Homo sapiens: one gene and its partner. The protein of the gene in region 2 interacts with the protein of the main gene of each other region in a pairwise test. Each region holds a gene or a part of one and is shown on either strand. Other genes may lie near its edges. The genes, in order: CLRN1 and SLC34A3.

Region 1 (3,814 bases), on a different chromosome or scaffold from region 2:
TGGGTCAAGCAATTTCCCACCAGATAAAACAACTTTTCAAAGCCTTCCTTCTGCTTCCCTTACTTTCCAGCCTGTATCCTTAGTACGTAATTTGTAAACATTGTCACGAAGGGTCCTGATGCTTTAATATATGCAGACTAAAAGGATATGCAAAATTAACCACATCTAAAAGTGACCAAAGCAAGTCTACTCCCTTGTAAAATTATAGAAAGGTTTGCCTTTCAGTACATTAGATCTGCAGCTACATTAGTTGTTTCTGCGTCTTTAGATTTTGCAAAAGGGAACTGAAATCCAGCAAGTCGTATTAGGAGCCCATTCAGAAAATGAACAAAAAAGCAAAAGAAAATGACCCAGAATGAGGTGGTATATTTTTCACTTTGCGTTTTGTAGACATAAGTCCCTTCTTTATAATTTGCAATTTTTTCTGAGAGGTGATGGATTTTCACTTCAGAGGCAAACAATATCATGACAAGACAGCCACAGGAGCCTGCAACAGAAGAAACAAGGTGTTGGGACAAATATTTCCTGATTGTAAGGGACAGGGAAGAGGGTCAATGTGTAAACCAAGGAATTCTCTTACCATCATCCCCATTGACATTATCCACACAAAAAATTATTGCATATTTGTAATCATGAGCCTGATTCTTCAGTCTCTAGGTGGTAGGGCTTGGGTTATGGTTCTGCTCTGAGTGAAGAAGATTTGTGTGTGCGTGTAGGAGTGCAGTGGGAGGTAAGGAGGTGGTTAGAATTAAGCTGATCTTACAAAGACTGGGAGATATTCCTCTTTGCATGATGTGAAGGCTGAATTGCTAGGCACTTTAAAGGCATAATGGTGGAATCAGGCTACAAAGCAGCCACTGCTATGATGTGGCTTCAAGAGAAAATATTTCTCTGTACTTCACAGGCCATGCAGGATAAATGTCAATCATGCAGCCTCTTGTGAAAGGCCCCAGCCTCCCTTCAGAAGGGTTACCACAGCTCCTTCAGCTTTCACTTGGCCACAGCTGCACAAAGGAAAAGGTAGCTATGGATGAGGTATTGAGGTGGCGCACATCTCTATTCTCCTTGTTTGTAACAGAATTCAGATTTTTGGCTAGACATGTGAGTGTCTTGAATTAAGACAGCATTGTTCAACTAAGGGTGGTTGGGAAGTATGGGCGGGATAGTCTTCTTGAACTATACAGGTATTAGGGGCCTGTCCTTTCTTCCCCACTTCCTCCTTCCTGTGGCTGAAATATGGATGCAATGGCTGGAGCCCCAGCATACATTTTGGACCAATGTGGCCCCAGAAATGGAAGCCATATGCTGTGGAAAAACAAGAAAGAGGGAGTCTAAATCCCAGATCCTTGGAGCCTCTGGACCAGCCCTGGACTTCAACCTCTAGATTTTTATGTGTGAGAAAAATAAACATTTGTTTTGTTTAGTACACTATTATTATTTTTCCCCCTCATCTATCACTCATTGGTAGCCTAATTTTAACAGATGTAGCTGTGATTTCGGTGAGATTGCTGTGGGACAGGGGCACTCCATACTGGCTGGAAGCTGGAAACTCTGGTGAGTGTCTCCCCCGAAGATGGACACTGGGAGACTTCCAGATGGGTGGATGGCACAGGGAGCAGAAGCAGGTGGCAGGAGGGACCAGATCAGGAGCACATAGGATGGCCAGGACTCTACAGCGCTTCCACAGCTACTGTTATATCTCAGGCCACCACAATAGGGTTCCAGTTAATAGGAGACTTGCTGGGATGGTTTTCTACCTTAGGTGAAACCAATTTGGGTTCAAACCCTGATTCCTTTACTTACTATGTAAAAGTAGGCAATTTTAATATTCAGGTCTCAATTTCTTCATCTATAAAAGGTGGCTAATATAAATAAAGCATGATTTGCATTTGGCTTTGTAATTGACACATATAAATGCTTACTAATTGGTAGCTATTCATATGGTTTTTATGGATTCCTTTTTTCTTGCAAGTCCTTATCATAATAGCTTGATTTAGGTCAAACCAATTTGGTTTCAAATCCTGATTCCTCCACTTACAATGTCAAATTAGGTATTTTATTTCAAATCCTCAGCCCACCCCATATCAGGGACACCTGACTACATCAGGGTAGGCAACACAAAAGAATGTATTACAGTGTCTTTTTTTTCTCCAAATACTCTCCCACTAATTTTATGTCTCCTTTAGGACAGGTAAATGCTTTTTACTCTTCAGTTAAAGTTAATCCAAATATCCTAGGAGTGGCAACATAATGGCTTGAGTTTCTATTCATTAATTCACTCATTCATTTATTCTCTAGACTTATATGGGGGATAGTTGTGGAGATTTAAACATTAAAGATAATACTCATGATTTTTGCTCTCATGGAGTATAATTTGGCAGAGGACATAAAATCAATTACTAACCAATTACAGTGCATGTAATCAAGGGATAGTAGAGGGGCTGTTACTGAGAGGGTGGGCAGCATTATGGAAGGTTCCTTAGAAGTAGCCAGAAGGAGCTATAGGAAAAGTTAGCTGAGCAGAGGGAGGCTGGACTGTGGGGGGAGAGTACTGCAGGCAGGAGGAGCTACGGTGCAAGTGACAGCCCCCATTCCTTTCCCAAAGGTCAGGCTGGGTTTGGGGTAGAGGCAGAGATTTGGGGGTAGGAATGAGGGGAGAGGTGAGCAGAAAAGACAACATCACATTTCTTCTACTTTAGAATTTCACATAGGACTGGCCAATCAGCTTAATCATCATCAAATAATCAAATAATATAATTTTCTTGAAATTTCACTTTCTACCATCCTCAGAGTGGTAGCTGAGAATATTCCTTTGTAAAATTTTGTCAGCCTATTTTTGTATTCTGAGCTTAAAACCAGAGCTCTCCCCTGGCAAAACCGTATTATTTCTTTATTGTTAGATCCTAACAAAAAGGCTGCAGTGCTGTTTTCTCTTTATCTTTTATTCGAAAATTGTGGAGAAAATGCCATTCCTTTTACCATAAGAGCCTTCTTTGTCTGAGGAGATGGTGAATTTCAGACAGAAGTGAAACATTATTTCCTGAGCACCTGAAAGGAAAATTCAAGCTCGGTTTCCTTTTCAAGTTGTTAAATATTTCAAAGGTACTGCTTTGTTAAGGAGACAGCATTACAGCAAGGCTGTATTTCAAATTCCTAAAGTAAAAGTTACTTGGGGTGTCATAAGACTCAAAGCCTTTTGCCATAGCTAATATTTCAAGCACACAGCCCCCAAAACAAAGTGTGCTGTCTGGTAGTAGAGAGGACAGTCTGAGATCTTGCTCTGGATTCTAGGGTTGATCACGAGGTCAACGTTGTCGTTTCAGGGACAGAGGATAGAAACCCAGCCTGAGTCTCATAACCTTTCAGTGACTGCTAAGAGATATGAAGGGAGACAACTCAGTGTGAACTTGGTATATTTTTGCTTCTCTCTGTCCATGGCTCTAAAAAAGACATGGGATCAAGGATAACTATTTATGACTTATGGACCAAAAGATATGCATGAAGAGTTTCTCTTTGTGGCATGGCTGCTAAGGCTATAAAAGAAGTGTGTAAGTGATATGAGTGATGTGAGAATAAGACTCAACCTACACTCTTCCAGTATGACCCTTTGAATCCAGCAAGAGGGGCTCCTGCTTTGTGCCCCACATTTAGAGGGTTCTGCTCTGTCTCTCTTCTGGAGAGGTTCCTTCCCACAGCATGAGGAATCCTTGAAGTCAATAGAACATACCCATCTGGCATGCCTGACTCACATTTTAGTCCATACTCCTGGGACCCCGGAATTGACTTCGTAAATAGCCCTGAGCCCATTTTCAAG
Region 2 (3,469 bases):
CACAGAGAAGAACAGCACAGCCCCGGCGGACAGGCTGCCCTGTGAGGCCCGGCCCACCCCAAGCCCCCTACACCCCCCACACTCCCCCTCACCGGCCCCTACATGGAGAGGAACAGCACAGCCCCGGCGGACAGGCTGCCCTGTGAGGCCCGGCCCACCCCGGCCCACCCCCCAGGCTCCCCCTCACCTGCCCCTGCCCTGCCCCCAGGCCGCCACCTGTTTGCGGGCACGGAGCTCACGGACCTGGCCGTGGGCTGCATCCTGCTGGCCGGCTCCCTGCTGGTGCTCTGCGGCTGCCTGGTCCTCATAGTCAAGCTGCTCAACTCTGTGCTGCGCGGCCGCGTGGCCCAGGTCGTGAGGACAGTCATCAATGCGGGTGAGGGCGTGGGAGGAGGTGCGGTGGCCAGGGCTGACCCAGCATCCCCCATAGACTTCCCCTTCCCACCAGGCTGACTCGGGGGCTACCTGGCCCTCCTTGTGGGCGCTGGCCAGGGCTGACCCGGCATCCCCCACAGACTTCCCCTTCCCGCTGGGCTGGCTCGGCGGCTACCTGGCCGTCCTCGCGGGCGCCGGCCTGACCTTCGCACTGCAGAGCAGCAGCGTCTTCACGGCGGCCGTCGTGCCCCTCATGGGTGAGCAGGCAGGACAGAGGCCTCGGGAACGGGGGCTCGGGCTGGGGTCCTGTGGTGACTCCCAGTTCCCCCAGGGGTCGGGGTGATCAGTCTGGACCGGGCGTACCCCCTCTTACTGGGCTCCAACATCGGCACCACTACCACAGCCCTGCTGGCTGCCCTGGCCAGCCCCGCAGACAGGATGCTCAGCGCCCTGCAGGTACTGTCCACCCTGCCCCGCTGCCAGAACTGGCCAGCTTCCTCTCAGCCCCACAGACAGGAGTGTGTCACCAGCCCCGGGGCCCTAGGCTGGCTGTGCCCCCGCCTTCCTGGACCCCTTCCCTGGCCGCCAGCCTCAGCCCTGCTGCTCTGCCTCCTTGGACCCCACAGGTCCTGCACACATTTCACACCCTCCCTGCGTCTCCTCCCTTGAGACCTCCTCACTTCCACATTTTCTCAGCTCTTTGCTGTGTCCCTGGGGGCCTGCCCCCAGCATCTCAGGGGGCTCTAAGCCCCTCTATTCCAGCACCCTCAGATGCTTTCCCCCAACCCCTGCTCCCTCAAGGAGCAGCCACTCACCTCCAGCAGGTCCCCATCTGGACGACCCTCCCAGCCCCCATTCCACATCTGCAAAGGCCGAGTCCCACCGATGCTGGGCCCTGCCCTGCCGCTGCCAGGGCTGTGATTCTGCCTCCAGGACACTTCCCCCAGTCTGAGCCCCCAGCTCTGTGCCCCAACCCCAGTCTCATTTAGTCCAGCTGGTTCTCCCTCTAAAACAGCCCGTCTGCGGCCTGCTGCCCGGAGGCCCAACAGGTTCAGCTCCCGAAACTCCGGGTCATGCTGCACCGCCGCTGACAGGAAGAGACAAGTGCGGCACCCCCTGGAACCCACGCTCGTTCTTCTTGCCTCTGCCCTGTCTCTATCCACTTAGACCCTCCCAGTGCAGGGTCCTGCTCCACCCCCTGCAGGAAGCCCTCCAGACTGCACCTGTGTGTGGACTCCTCCAAGTCCGGCAGCCCCTGGAGGGGCCCGTGACACTGTTCTCCCCTCCTGTGGCCCTGTGCCTCCTCCCCGCAGGGCCTGGACTGTGCAGGCTCAGCACACTGGGGACTGAGGAGACGGGGTCTCTTGGCAGGAGGCACAGGCAGAGCCAGGTCGGAAGGTGCTTCCCCCGCAGGTCCCCCTTGAGGGCAGCAGTGATGCAGTCAGTGCTCGGGGGTGCTGGGCTGGACTGCAGCTCCCAGGAGCGTGCGGGAGGCGTGCTGGGGAACATGTCCACATCTGGCCACAGCCCGCCTCCCAGACGGCCATCTCATCCGTGAAGCAGGATGAACTTCAGACTTGGCGCTCCTTCTGTAGGGTGGAGGAGGGCAGGGGTCCGGGGCCCCTGGTGACCCCACCTCGTTGGGCCCAGGCCCCTGACAGCCCCCTCGCCCCCAGGTCGCCCTCATCCACTTCTTCTTCAACCTGGCCGGCATCCTGCTGTGGTACCTGGTGCCTGCACTGCGGCTGCCCATCCCGCTGGCCAGGCACTTCGGGGTGGTGACCGCCCGTTACCGCTGGGTGGCTGGGGTCTACCTGCTGCTCGGATTCCTGCTGCTGCCCCTGGCGGCCTTCGGGCTCTCCCTGGCAGGGGGCATGGAGCTGGCCGCTGTCGGGGGTCCCCTGGTGGGGCTGGTGCTCCTCGTCATCCTGGTTACTGTCCTGCAGCGGCGCCGGCCGGCCTGGCTGCCTGTCCGCCTGCGCTCCTGGGCCTGGCTCCCCGTCTGGCTCCATTCTCTGGAGCCCTGGGACCGCCTGGTGACCCGCTGCTGCCCCTGCAACGTCTGCAGCCCCCCGAAGGCCACCACCAAAGAGGCCTACTGCTACGAGAACCCTGAGATCTTGGCCTCCCAGCAGTTGTGACGGGCAGTTGCTGAGCAGACCGCCCCACCCTCCCCGGCTGGGAGGGCTCTGGAGGGCCCTGGAGGGGGGGTCCCCGCGGCAGCTGACCTCCGGTCACCTGCTTCCCCTTCTGTGCAAATAAACCAGGCTGTTATCTGGGGTGGCGGTCCTCACTCCCCTAGACAGGGGCCGCCTGCGCAGGTGGGGGAAGCAGCCCGATGCTGCCTCCTGGTGGACACTCCGGGGCCTGGGGCTCAGGCACAGGAGCCCGCCCACCCCAAGGTGTGTTTCTCACGGCAGCCGCTGGGGACAGAAGCTCCCAAGGAATGGCGGGCCTGGGGGGGCGGGGACTTCCCACAGTGGGAGCTGGGGCCCCTCCTGGGGGCGCAGGGGAGAGCCCAGCCAGCAGGGAGCAGGGCCGGTGGTGCAGGGTGTGGGGGATCCCGGAGCTCCTCTGCCCCGGCGGATGTCATGGTTGGGGTGGGGACTGGAGTCCCATCAGGTGCGTGGGGTGTGAGAAGGGACCCTGACGGCTTGGAGGGCCAGGTGGTCCCAGAGGCACCACCTGTCTGTCTGCCCTCTGTGTCTCTCAGCCGGTCCTGGGCTGGGCCCCTCGGGGACACTTCTCTGCAGGGCTGGGCCACGGCAGGTGCTCAGCTCCCAGAACCCACCAGGAAGCCAGTCTCACCCGCCAGGCTGGGGCACACTGAGGCCTCCCACTGCCACGGAGAATGAGACCCTGTCCCGGGAAGGCCTGTCCGTGGGGTGGGCCCAGGAGGGCGGACAGCACCCATGGGGAGGACTTGGGGGCCAGGGGGCCCTCCCTCTGCTGTGTGGTCGGGTTTCCACACAGGAAGGCTTGTCTGCCAGCCAATGGGTAACTGGACACCTAGGAAGTTGAGGGGGGGCTCCTGCCACCTCTAGCCCAGAGCTGCCCACAGCCCTAACCCAACCCCCACTCCCGCCAAGGGAAG

The links.
Region 1: the proteins of SLC34A3 (region 2) and CLRN1 interact in binary tests that used the Homo sapiens proteins (3 or more experiments, as listed by UniProt).

Annotation. Positions count from the first base shown.
Region 1 is NC_000003.12:150,927,715-150,931,528, forward strand, and holds part of CLRN1 (clarin-1), read right to left. Parts: intron 488-3,814; coding exon 222-487; 3' UTR 1-221. UniProt on the Homo sapiens protein: May have a role in the excitatory ribbon synapse junctions between hair cells and cochlear ganglion cells and presumably also in analogous synapses within the retina.
Region 2 is NC_000009.12:137,233,901-137,237,369, forward strand, and holds the end of SLC34A3 (sodium-dependent phosphate transport protein 2C), read left to right. Parts: coding exon 1-41; intron 42-208; coding exon 209-376; intron 377-515; coding exon 516-632; intron 633-706; coding exon 707-831; intron 832-1,390; coding exon of another isoform or gene 1,391-1,933; intron 1,934-2,051; coding exon 2,052-2,516; 3' UTR 2,517-2,655; downstream 2,656-3,469. UniProt on the Homo sapiens protein: Involved in actively transporting phosphate into cells via Na(+) cotransport in the renal brush border membrane. The cotransport has a Na(+):Pi stoichiometry of 2:1 and is electroneutral.